Homo sapiens: one gene and its partner. The protein of the gene in region 2 interacts with the protein of the main gene of each other region in a pairwise test. Each region holds a gene or a part of one and is shown on either strand. Other genes may lie near its edges.

What was found.
Region 1: the proteins of H3C13 (region 2) and DBH interact in binary tests that used the Homo sapiens proteins (3 or more experiments, as listed by UniProt).

What each region holds. Positions count from the first base shown.
Region 1 is NC_000009.12:133,646,317-133,653,600, forward strand, and holds part of DBH (dopamine beta-hydroxylase precursor), read left to right. Parts: intron 1-1,529; coding exon 1,530-1,696; intron 1,697-5,317; coding exon 5,318-5,461; intron 5,462-5,929; coding exon 5,930-5,968; intron 5,969-6,623; coding exon 6,624-6,683; intron 6,684-7,284. UniProt on the Homo sapiens protein: Catalyzes the hydroxylation of dopamine to noradrenaline (also known as norepinephrine), and is thus vital for regulation of these neurotransmitters.
Region 2 is NC_000001.11:149,812,481-149,817,802, forward strand, and holds H3C13 (histone H3.2), read right to left. Parts: upstream 1,214-5,322; 5' UTR 1,202-1,213; coding exon 791-1,201; 3' UTR 745-790; downstream 1-744. UniProt on the Homo sapiens protein: Core component of nucleosome. Nucleosomes wrap and compact DNA into chromatin, limiting DNA accessibility to the cellular machineries which require DNA as a template.

The DNA of each region.
Region 1 (7,284 bases), on a different chromosome or scaffold from region 2:
ACCACCCCGCCATGTCCGCCATGTCCACCATGTCCACCATGCATCCGGGGGCATGGGGCCAGGCCTTTAGATCCTCCGCCAACCATGAGCCCAGCCGGTACTCAGAGCCTGGCTGCTGATTCACTAGGCATGGAGTTTCAGGAACGGTGGGGCTACCTGGATGACACCTGGTTGTGAGGATGTTCGAGTGGGTGCCAGCATCCCTGAACCTCTGTTTTTTTGTTTTGAGACGAAATCTCACTCTGTCACCCAGGCTGGAGTGCAATGCACGATCTCAGCTTAATGCAACCTCCGCCTCCCAGGTTCAAGCGATTCTCCTGCCTCAGCCTCCTGAGTAGCTGGGATTATAGGTGCGTGCCACCACACCTGGCTAATTTTTGTATTTTTAGTAGAGACAGGGTTTCGCCATGTTGGTCAGGCTGGTCTCGAACTCCCAACCTCAGGTGATCCACACACCTCGGCCTCCCAAAGTGCTGGGATTACAAGGCGTGAGCCACCGTGCCCGGCCCCCTGGACCTCTGACCATCAGTTTCATGTGACCACTGGGAGGCTGGCCCAGGGAGCTTCAGGGACTCTCCAATTAGCAAACGGCAAGGAGAACTAACAGGTGTGGCCACACCATAATCAGGAGACACAGTCTCCGTGACTCGAAGAAGCACCATGTTATTCCTTTGGAAGAGGCCCTTGAGTGTGGGCTGAGGCTCATAAAGGGACAGCAAGTCATCTGAGAGCACACAGCACGCTGTTGACCAAGCAGGACCTGGCCTGTGCATGAACGGGGGCTAGACCTGCAACGCTGGCCCTCCTCCTGGGGGGCCACATTCTCACTCAAATTGTTCCTGAGATGTCAGCTTGGTAGGTGGGTTCCTTGGGTCTGCAGGACATAAATCAAAGTAGTAAAAGTGGGGGCTGCTGGGAGGATGTGCTCCTTGAATGCTTCTTGTTAACCTCAACACAGAGATACACTCACACTTGCCCAGCTTTGACGCAGGGCCAGGGCTCTTCTGTGCCATCGGCAGATGGGAGTTCCATGCCCTCTTCTTTGCCCAGACCACACCCTGCAGGTTGTCACCGTCTTGCAGGCTGATTTCCAGCTTAGGTTCCTTTGAACGTGGAAGAAGAACATCAAAGCACTTATGAAACAATCTGAGCACAGAACTCAAGTTGTTTACGAGTTTCCGTCTATCAGCAGCATCTCACCCGCACCTGATTCCATGGAGGCTTTAAGTGGCTCACGTTGATCACATCTTTCCATAGCATTCAACTAGTTTTCATAGAAACAGCAGCTCTTTCTTCCCAGTGAGTGTAGCCTGTTTGCGTTAATTGATCTTGCGAGCTGCCTGGCATCCACAGGTGTGGAAACAAAGACAGCCAGCTCTTGGTCTGCCTAGCAGGTGGGAGCAGATGGGGGGTGACCGGCCCTGCCTCCTGGCTGAGGGTGGCTGGGGTCATAGGGATAATCTGTCCGCAGGGGGAAGTGAGAGGGCCTCCACTTACCGCTCACCTCCATCCATCCCACCTTCTCCCAGGACGAAACGACTCCTCAGGCATCCGCTTGTACTACACAGCCAAGCTGCGGCGCTTCAACGCGGGGATCATGGAGCTGGGACTGGTGTACACGCCAGTGATGGCCATTCCACCACGGGAGACCGCCTTCATCCTCACTGGCTACTGCACGGACAAGTGCACCCAGCTGGTGAGTGGGGCTGGGCCCGGCACTGCACCCTCCCTCCTCCCGCGTCCCTCAGTGGAGGCCTGGCAGGTCGTGGCCCACGAAGGGTGGCAGGCACAGCTTTGGTTTCCCCTGACCCTGAATCCCCCTGCGGTCCTCCCTCTTTTCTGTATGCAAGGGAACCCTGCTGCTGAGAGGCCATTTGTGTGTGTATGCACCTCCCTCTCCAGCAATAACCATGGCTCCCACTAGTCCACACCCACGTGCCAGGCTTCCACGAGCTGCATTTTAAAATATGCCTTCATTATGTAAGCAACACACACATGCACTTGCCACTCACAAGCGCAGGCACTGCAGCTAAAGAGAACGCTCCCCTCATCCGCTGCCGCCTCCCCCTGAGATAGCCACTTCTTGGCTCTTTGTGTCCTTCCAGACCTTTTTCCTGTATATTTCAGGAAGCTCTTGCAGGTGTTAGAAACCTTTTGTGTTTTTAAAAAGTTGTATTGAATAGTTAACAAATTTTTCAACAAATGGGAGGCATTTTTCTGGTGATTTGCCTTTTTATTGCTGCATAGTATTCCACAGGATGGGGTTTTCACCACGCACCTGAGCAGGGCAGGACTAGGTGAGGCAGTGAAGTGCCGGGTACAGGATCTCAGGGAGCACCCGTCCTCAGGGCTATGCACGCTGGGTGGAGGCACAGGTTGGCGCTTAGACTGGCGCCAACAGCAGGTCCTGTCCTTGGCTTCTGGTGAGTTCAGAGAGTGACTACTAAAATCTCCTCCTTTGCTTGCCCTATCTTGGTCCAAGCCTGTGCTGAACTGTCTCCCTATCAATCAGTGTCTAGGCTGTTCTCAACTTTTCACCAATAGAAAGAAGCTTCTGGGAAATCCTTGTCCATGTAGGAAACCATTTTCTCATGTAGATTTCTAGGCATGAAATTGCTGCTCAGAGATGTGAGTGTTCCCTTGAGTAAATCTTGCAAAATGCCCCTCAGAAAGCCCATCTTCTGCTCCCTCCCACACATAGGACGAGAGGGTGCCCGGTTTTACTGACCCACTGGATTATTAATATTGTAAATATTTTCTGTCATTTGGGAGGAAGACATGTCAGTGTTGTTTAACTTGAATTTTCTATTTGTGGACTTGAGGATCTTTTCCTCTGCCTCTTGGCCATTTGTTCCTGTTTTCTGTTCATTCCTATGCTCGGTTTTTCCAGTAGGTGGTTTGTTTTTCTTACTGTTGGTTTCTAGGAGTTCTTCTTATATGATGGATGTTATTTCATAGTTTGTGTATATGTTACAAACATTTCCTCCTGTGCGGTAGCTTTACTTCTCACAGTGACCTGCAAAGTAAGTGTTGACGTACCCATTTCACAGATGGGGAGACTGAGGCTTGCTGGGATCACACTGCCAGCAGTCACGCAGAGTGAAGATTCAAATACCAGTCTGTCTGACTTTGAAAGCTGTGGCCGTGACAGCAGATTTCGTTGTAATGAGGTTTAGAGTGGATTTTCCTTCCTAGTAAATGGGTCGATTGGGATTTGTTCTTCATGTGGGTGAGCCCCCAGAGCATCCCAGTCTTCCAAGCAAAGGTTCCTCAAGGCTGAAGGGAGACGGAGCTCTCAGCCGGCATGGCACCCATTGTCTCCGGCAGGAAATCAGCTCCTTTTGTCCCAGACGGGGGTGGACACTCTCTCCCACTTCCCTAAAGCGCCCACTGGTGAAGCGTGGGCCCATGTAAAAGGCACCTTGGCCAGGGCTCATGGGGAAGAGCGGCTTCCGGCCAGGCAGCACTCACTGCCCCTTGCAGGGCCTTGGGGCCTTCGACCCCGCTGACCGCTGACTGTGAGAACGCCTCTCTCCAGCCTCAGGAATACAGACCCGCCTCCCCTTGCCAGAGTCCTCCACTACCTTAAGTAACAGAATGAGAATGTTCAGTCTTGTCTCTCCTTTGGCAGATAAAAGAGGGGCACAAATTCTGCAGCCAAAATCTGGCCTAGTCTAGCTATCCCAGTGAAATAGGCCAAGACAAGAGTGCTGCTTTGGACCAGAGTGCCCAGAAGAGCATAGTCCTCCCTCCACCTGGCCGACACCTGGCATCTCTGGGCCAGGGTCGGCCTCTGGGGGCCAAAGGGGCATTGGGACCCTTTGGGCTCCCAGGCCTGGCACACAGTGGCCTCTCAAGCCATTGCAAGGGACACAAAGCTATAGGCGACGGCAAGGTCAGGGCGGCCGCTGCTTGGGAGCGAGAGGGAAGGAGCAAAAGTGAGTCCTAAAAAGCTCGGCCATCTGGGACCTTCAGGGATGGGGCTGTCGGGACCTTGAGCTCTGGGACCTGCTGACTGCATGAACAAACTGGGCAGAGCCTGGCAGCGGGTGGGCAAAAGGACAACTGACTCACAAAGAAAATGCTCGATTTCAGGAAAGACGTGTTCTTTTCTTTCCTTCTTTCCTTCTTTTCTTTCCTTTCTTTTCTTTTTCTTTCTTTTTCTTTTTCTTTCTTTTCTTTCCTTTCTTTCTTTCCTTCCTTCCTTCCTTCTCTTTTCTTTCTTCCTTCCTTTCTTTTTTTTTTTTTTTGATGGAGTTTCGCTCCTGTTGCCCAGGCTGCAGTGCAATGGCACAATCTTGGCTCACTGCAACCTCTGCCTCCCGGGTTCAAGTGATTCTCCTGTCTCAGCCTCCTGAGTAGCTGGGATTACAGGCACGTGCCACCATGCCCGGCCAATTTTTGTATTTTTAGTAGAGGCGGGGTTTTACCATGTTGGCCAGACTATTCTCAAACTCCTTACCTCAAATGATCCATGTGCCTCAGCCTCCCAAAGTGCTGGGATTACAAGCATGAGCCACCATGCCCAGCCATGGAAATGCATTTTCTATCTAAAAAAAGTTAGCATTAGGTTAGAGAAAACTTTCGTTCTCTGGAAGATTCTCTCATGCCCCAGTGATGGCATAAGACCTCTTGAGATGAGGGCTGCCATCTTTTCTGTGAGGCCGGCCTGCAGCCTCAGAGTGTCCAGCTGCAGCACCCCATGGTCACATCCATCTTGGTCCTGGATGACCACCTTCCAGTTGTAGCTACAGCTCCCAGCTGTAGCACGGGGTGATGCTGAGCACAGGGAGAATGCAGCCTTGGCTGCTTTGAAGCTGAAAGGAAGCCACAACGCAGGGCAGCTGAAGGTCCTGCTCGGCCCACCACGTAGGGGACCTGCCAAGTACCACCTTCTGCCACTTGCTTTTCCCTGGACAGCAAGCTCTTCAGCACAGAGGCCACGCGCTGCTCAGCTTGGTGGCTTTGCCACACCCTGTCCACGGGAGGCTCGCCTTAAAGGCCTGTTGACTGAGTGAAGATGAACCTGTCAGGCTTCAGGGGCTCAGGAGAGGATGAAGGACTCGGAAAGAAAGTCGCTCCTGAGTGGGACTAGGGGCTGCTTCTTTGGGAGCTGGGGGCTGTTGCGGCCCCCTCGCTCTTCCCCGTGAGGTTTCTGATGGTGGCTCTAACCTGGCCGGGGAGAAAGACCTAGAAAATGCAAGTGTTCCAGGGAAGCAAACTGCCCAGGGTGGCTGCTCCCTACCGGGTCCTGGCCATGGACGGGAGGGTCCCCTCGGGGGTCAGGCCCTGACACTGCAGCCCCCCGACCCCACAGGCACTGCCTCCCTCCGGGATCCACATCTTCGCCTCTCAGCTCCACACACACCTGACTGGGAGAAAGGTGGTCACAGTGCTGGTCCGGGACGGCCGGGAGTGGGAGATCGTGAACCAGGACAATCACTACAGCCCTCACTTCCAGGTAGGAACCTGCACCCCACCCCTGCCCCGCCCCCACACCCTGCCACCACACGACCTCCTGGGTCTACTGTTTCCTGACACCATAGGGATGGCTCCAGGCTGGCTTCTTTTTCCTGGGCCAGCCCCACCCGCCCCCCACCCATGTGGCCTGTGCTCCCCACTTGGGTGTCTGGTGTCTGATCGTAGGGAGGCCTCTGGCACATGGCAGATGGTGGTGGGATTCGGGAGACCCAGGCGGCCCTCTGGGAACATCAATCTTGGTCTTGGATAACCACCTTCTGGTTTGAATCTAATGCCCTCCCTGGCCAGAAGCCACACTTAGCGGGCTCTGGCTTCCACTGTAGAGGCTGGGGCAAAATGGACACCCCCAGAGGTCAGGGAGGCCTGAGGGAGGACACAGTGGCCGGGGGTCTGGTCTGCAGCTCTCTGAGGTCTCCTCTCCCCCACCCCTCGGCTCTGCCTGCCCCAGGAGATCCGCATGTTGAAGAAGGTCGTGTCGGTCCATCCGGTGAGTGCCCAGCGGGAAGGCTGTCCCACTCACTGCCACCAGCTGGGGTGGCTGAGAGGGCTGGGGGTGCCACCAGAAGGAGAGGGACACAGAAAGTGATAGGGGGAGGGAGAGCCATCCAGGGCAGGGGGAGGGTGCCTGTGGGTGGCTCTGGGCTGGGCTACCTCATGGGGAGACTCACTCAGGAGTTCATGGAGAGACGTTGGAAAGAGTGGAGCAGACAGGACACTCCCAGGGGACGCGTGTCCTCAGTCTGATGGGCCGACCACAAACCCGAGAGTGTTTGGGGGAGATGAGGGCACTAAGGCAGGCAGTGGAGCCCTGATCCCACAGAGGGCCAAGCCCAGGCCTCGGTGGGGACTTGCCCAAGTCCTTTGAGATGTGTCATGGCCCACCAGCTGCACCCCCACTGGCCTGGGCCCTGGCCCTGTTGTGACCCACTGGGTCACAGGAGCTGATGGTTTATAACTTGCTCGGGAACACTCAGCCTGTGACCTTCGCACATGAATCTGCTGGGCTCCTTGTAGTGGACGACAGGGACTGTACCCCAGAGGTGCCGTGGCATGCACAGTGGCGTGGTCCTATGGGGGCGAGGCCTCCAGCACCTGCCAACGCCAGGTGGCAGGTGCTGATGGTCACATTGGCTTTTCCTCAGGGAGATGTGCTCATCACCTCCTGCACGTACAACACAGAAGACCGGGAGCTGGCCACAGTGGTAAGTCACCCCCGCTTCCCCCTGCACCTGCCCAGGGCGAGTGTTCAGCCTGAGCCATCTGAGGAAGGATGACAGGTCTTGACTCCTCACTTAGGGCATGGGCTCGTCCCCTCAATAAGCCAGTCGTTCTCAGCTCCCTGAACCACAGTGGCAGCATCACCAGGGAGCTTGGGATGAATGCAACCTCCTGGGTGCCACCCCAGGCCCACTGAGTCAGAGACACAGGCGGTGGCATCGGGCAATCCATGTTTTAACAAGCTCCCAGCGGATGTTGACCCCTGCTCAAGGTTGAGAAGCACTCACACCAAGAAGCTTCTCAGCACCCGGGGCTGGTGTGGGGAGAAGCTGTAGGACAAGAGGTTGACCTTTGCCCCGTGGAGCTCAAGGTGCACCAGGGAGACAGGCCTGGAGCACCTGCTGCTAACAACAAGCAAAATTACAAAACAAAACTTTAAAAACCAGGTTGAGGAGGCAGAGGTGCGGGGACCTGGGAGGGCCTTGTCAGAAATGTGGCTGTCACATGGAGCCCAGGGGAGAGGGGAGGAGGTGAAGGAAGGCTCTGTGCAGGGGCTGCGTGCGGGAAGGCCCAGAGGACCAAGAA
Region 2 (5,322 bases):
GGAGTCTATGTAAATAATAGATTCTAGTCTTGCTTCCTTAATGGTCACTGTAACAAAAGTCTTGTTATCCTATCAGAATGGTCCATTTCACACTAACCAGTTTTAAGCTAGGTGAAGCGATAGTTTCTACGGCTTGGGGTTTTTTCTTGGTTTTCACTTTCCATTAGACTTGCATACGGAAGAAATCTTAACGCCAGCTAGACAAGTTAACTCTCTTGCCTCGTTTTTGCATTTTTATTCTATACTTTGTGGAAATTTTTTTCTCTTCCTTGAAATACTACCTCACCCATTTTTAAAAATCGCCAGATATTTACTCCCGCCCGCTTAAATTACTATTCTGGCTTGGACACCGCCTGTAGTATGCAATGAGGAAGATGCTGAGCTTTAATTAAGCTTATAGTTCCTAAATAAACCAGGAAACGGGTTTATAATTTTTAAGGGACTCGCCCCACCCTTACACTCAGGATCTTCCACATCTAGAAACTCCCCATAGTCTCTTGCCCCCATGCAAAACTTTACCCACAGAATTGGGAGCCGGACCTCTAGCCTTAAACCAGCGTGAAAACGCTCGGCCGGAACCACAAGGACCATGCCTCTGCGGCTTTCTCTACTGCCGGCCAACTCACGGCTGGGCTTTGGGTTCTGTAACGTCACCCACCACGAGTGCCCCTGGCCCCTGACCGCTGCGCAAGGCAGACGCACATCAGATGGAGAGCCGGTACAGCTGCTCTTGATGAAAACGGCAGTGGCTCTGAAAAGAGCCTTTAGATCGACCACTTAAAAATATGCCTTAGGCCCGCTCCCCGCGGATGCGGCGGGCCAACTGGATGTCCTTGGGCATGATGGTCACGCGCTTGGCATGGATGGCGCACAGGTTCGTGTCTTCGAACAGCCCCACCAGGTAGGCCTCGCTGGCCTCCTGCAGCGCCATCACGGCCGAGCTCTGGAAGCGCAGGTCCGTCTTAAAGTCCTGCGCGATCTCGCGTACCAGCCGCTGGAAGGGCAGCTTGCGGATCAGCAGCTCCGTAGACTTCTGGTAGCGCCGGATCTCCCGCAGAGCCACGGTGCCGGGCCGGTAGCGGTGCGGCTTCTTCACCCCGCCCGTGGCCGGCGCGCTCTTGCGGGCCGCTTTGGTAGCCAGCTGCTTCCTCGGGGCCTTGCCGCCGGTCGACTTGCGGGCAGTCTGCTTAGTACGGGCCATGCTGTCTCATTGATAGGAGAGGGTCTAGGCAGTCATATTTATAGACATAGTCTCCTCTTGATTGGGCCTGAAAAGGAAATTTTCAAACTTGTGATCTCATTGGTTAAAATTCAATCCTCTTTACTGGGGCGGAAGATTGTTCTGCTAATCTTTCTTCCCTTATTATTTCCCCCTTTCCTGATTTTTTTCTGTAATTTTATCGATCACGGATTGTTTTTGAAGACTTTCCTTTAAATTAGTCTAACTTTTGTAAAAGCAATGTATAAAGTGTTTTGCATCCCATTTTAACAGAGATTTTTTTTTTCCCCGAATTCAAGCATGCCCTTCTATGAGCTATCAGCCTGTTTCAGGTTACCTGTTACTGTAGCTCTTCTACCATAGCTAACATTTATTTCATGTCTGGCATTTTGCTCAGCAAGTTAGATGCATTGTATACCATGAATGACCGAAGCTTAGCAAAAAAATATGTAATTGAAGGAATGAAAAAATTGATCTTATTTACTTGACCTTGGAACCCAGCCAAAGCCATTTCATGTGGGTAGTGTGCTGACCTATATTGACCTGATATTAGAGCCTCTGCCTTCCTTTAGTCTTTTCTCCCTGCGATGTGGTTCCTTCTTCCTCAACCTCACATCAATGGCCAATTAGGTCCTGCAGATGTTAAGCTTCTAAATCAAAGAAGGACAACACCAGAAATTCATTTCTCCTTTACAATGTAGAATAGTTTGTAAATTAGTGCTTATTAGCCAGATTACAAGTTCAAGTTTCAAAGCAAATTATTCATCAATTGCTGACTTGCTAACATTTTATTCAATAAAGTATTTTATAATGCTTAAAAGTTTAGTTTTTTTTCTGTTCTCTATGAAGAGAGTAAAGATGCTTTGCTTTTTCAATTTCATGTGCTTTGAAGTATGTATTGTTCAGAACAGTAAATATCATAGTGGTTATGTAGAAGCAACTGATACTTAAAAGTTGTAGTAGTTAATATAAAACTTTTAATCATATCCTTATTTTACTAAAAAAATCATTACAAACTATAAAAACTCAAACCTGAGAAAAGCAGGCCCGAAACGCTTAAAACTTACTTTGATGGTGTCATTATGAACTATCTTCCTACTGAAGTCAAAGTAAAGTAAAAGTGATTTCAAGGGGACTTCCTGAACACTAAACACAAAGTAGAAATCTGTGAGCTTAATTAATATCTTCAAGAGTCTCTCATGGGCAGAAGCATCCTCCTCTCGAGAGATCTAAAATGTACAAAAGTGTAACTGATGTGAACAAATGTTATCCCTCTCTGTGGTAGTTTTGTAATAATGCCTTACAGACAGCAGGCACTACTCAGTGTTTAAAGTTCTTCTACATACACTTTATCATTTAATCCCTACTCTGTGAAATAGATGTTACTCTTCTCACTTTACAGATAAGAAAACTGAGTCTCAGAGAAATTATGGCTTGTCCTGGGTAAGTAACAAAGCCTGTGTAATATTCTAAAGCAAAAGAATGAAACTGTAATGATGAAACTTTCTATTTCATTAGGCTTAGAGGATACCTTTTTTTTTTTTTTTTCATTTGAGATGGAGTCTCACTCTGTCACCCAGGCTGGAGTGCAGTGGTAGGATCTCTGCTCACTGCAGCCTCTGCCTCCTGTGTTCAAGCAATTCTCCTGTCTCAGCCTCCTGAGCAGCTGGGACTATAGGCGCAAGCCACCACCCCCAGCTAATTTATTTATTTATTTGTATTTTTAGTAGAGACACGGTTTCACCATATTGGTCAGGCTGGTCTCGAACTCCTGACCTCAGGTGATCCACCCTCCTCGGCCTCCCAAAGTGCTTGGGTTGCAGGCATGAGCCCCACGCACCCAGCCAACACAGTTTAAAGCACAAAAGCGTTTTCCCATCAAGCAATCACATCATCTAGTATTTCTCAAACATCTACACCCAACTATTCCCATTAGAAGGGAAAACTACCCCATGGAATCTGGATGATAGCCCAAAGCAGCCCACCCAAGCATCACATTTCTTTGCAATATACTTTCTCTATGATGTATGCAGTCTTGACCATAATGTAGGATGTGTTCATTTAAATAAGAAAATGGCATTCAATCAGACTTTAATGGCTATAGGTATCATTTCTCAGAATAAAACAATCAGATGTATAGTTGCCTTAAAAGTCATCTTTAATAACAGAATTCAGATCAATTGTTAGTTCAATTTCACCTAGTCCCCACATTGGACACTAGAGTGACATTTCTGTGAAAGGTCTCAATCCACCACTATATCAGAAGCAACTTTATGGTGCAAAAGAAGCTCTGCTTTTCTTCAGTTGTAACAAAGACGGAATATTCCTCCTAAAATTTTTGAAGTGTCCTTCAGCAGAAATTATAAGGCTGTGCAGCTTGAATACTGAGAACAGAAATTTCATTAGGTAGCACGGGGGAATAGACAAGAGAAGATTAAAATTTACCTAACAAGAAATAAGAAGGCAAAAGAAAATATTAATAAATGAATTATTACGCACATAATGTTTTGTATGTACATGTGTTTACTTTTAATACAAAAGTAACGGACTAAGTTAACATAGATGTTCCAATAAGATAATTTATGTTTCATTTTTGGCTTCAAGTATCCTCAGGGTTATAAGTATCATAAGCTGAGACCAGCTGAATTGGTTTGTGGGTTGATGAGGCCCTATGCCTGATTTGAATTTCTCTTGAATGGTCTGCAGCCCTGGACCAAGTTGAAGAAGCCATGAGAGTCTCAGCTTTTTTCCTTACCCCATTATGAGATAAACTCATTCCTTAAATATCTTGCTCATTTGATAAAACTTGGCACCTTTCTCCTTTCTACTGGTCCCTAATACTTACTACCTGTACTGTAAGCTCAAATTTTTTGCAATTTCTGCCTTTATTATGTAACGTATTCCACTGGAATATGTGTTACAGGAAAGGGGTCCCGATCCAGACCCCTAGAGAGGGTTCTTGGATATCCAGCAAGAAGGAATTCAGGGCCAGTCCATAAAGTGAAAACAAGTTTACTAGGAAAGTAGAGGAATAAAAGAATGGCTACTCCATAGAGAGAACAGCCCTGAGGGCTGCTGGTTGCCCATTTTTATGGTTATTTCTTGATTATATGTTAAACAGGGGTGGGGGGGTGGACCACGCCTATAATCCCAGCTACTCCAGAGGCTGAGACAAGATCATTTGAACCCCGGAGGCAGAGGTTGCAGTAAGCTGACATCGCTCCACTGCACTCCAGCCTGGACCACCCAGGGATAATCCGTCCCCCGCACCCCGCCCCCCCAAAAAAATCACTGCCAGTAAGGAACAAACAGCCAGGACGAAGTACTAAGATGTAAAGAGATGTAAAATAGCCCGGGCGCGGTGGCTCACGCCTGTAATCCCAGCTCTTTGGGAGGCCTAGGCGGGCAGATCACGAGGTCAGAAGATAGAGACGATCCTGGCTAACACGGTGAAACCCCGTCTCCACTGAAAATATTTTTTTAAAAAAAATTAGCCAGGCGTGGTGGAGGGCGCCTGTAGTCCCAGCTAATCGGGAGGCTGAGGCAGGAGAATGGCATTAACCTGGGAGGCGGAGCTTCAAGTGAACCCAGATCGCGCCACGGCACTCCAGCCTGGGTGACAGTACGAGACTGTGCCTCCAAAAAAAAAAAAAAAAAAAGAAAGATGTAAAATAATGTGATACATTCTGCAAGAGTTATGACAGAGTCAGAAAGGGGCAAGCATGTTTCTTCTCTACCCTGAAGCAGCCAAGGGAGAAGAAGATATCTGTTGCCAACGCTGGGGTGTTACAAGTGCACACTGCCATGCCCGGCTAATTTTTTGGATTTTAGTAGAGACAAGGTTTCACTGTGTTGCCCAGGCTGGTCTCGAACTCCTGAGCTCAGGCAATCCACCCGCCTAGGCCTCACAAAGTGCTAGGATTACAGGCGTGAGCCACCACGCCCGGCCTATATATGCATATTTTTTTCTAACACTTACATACTTTTTCTTGGTGCCAAGAATGTTTTAAACACTTTACATGTATTAACTCATTTTATCCTCACAAAACCCTGTCAAGTAGGTAGTGTAAGTATGTCCATTTACAGATTGGGAGATGGAGGAA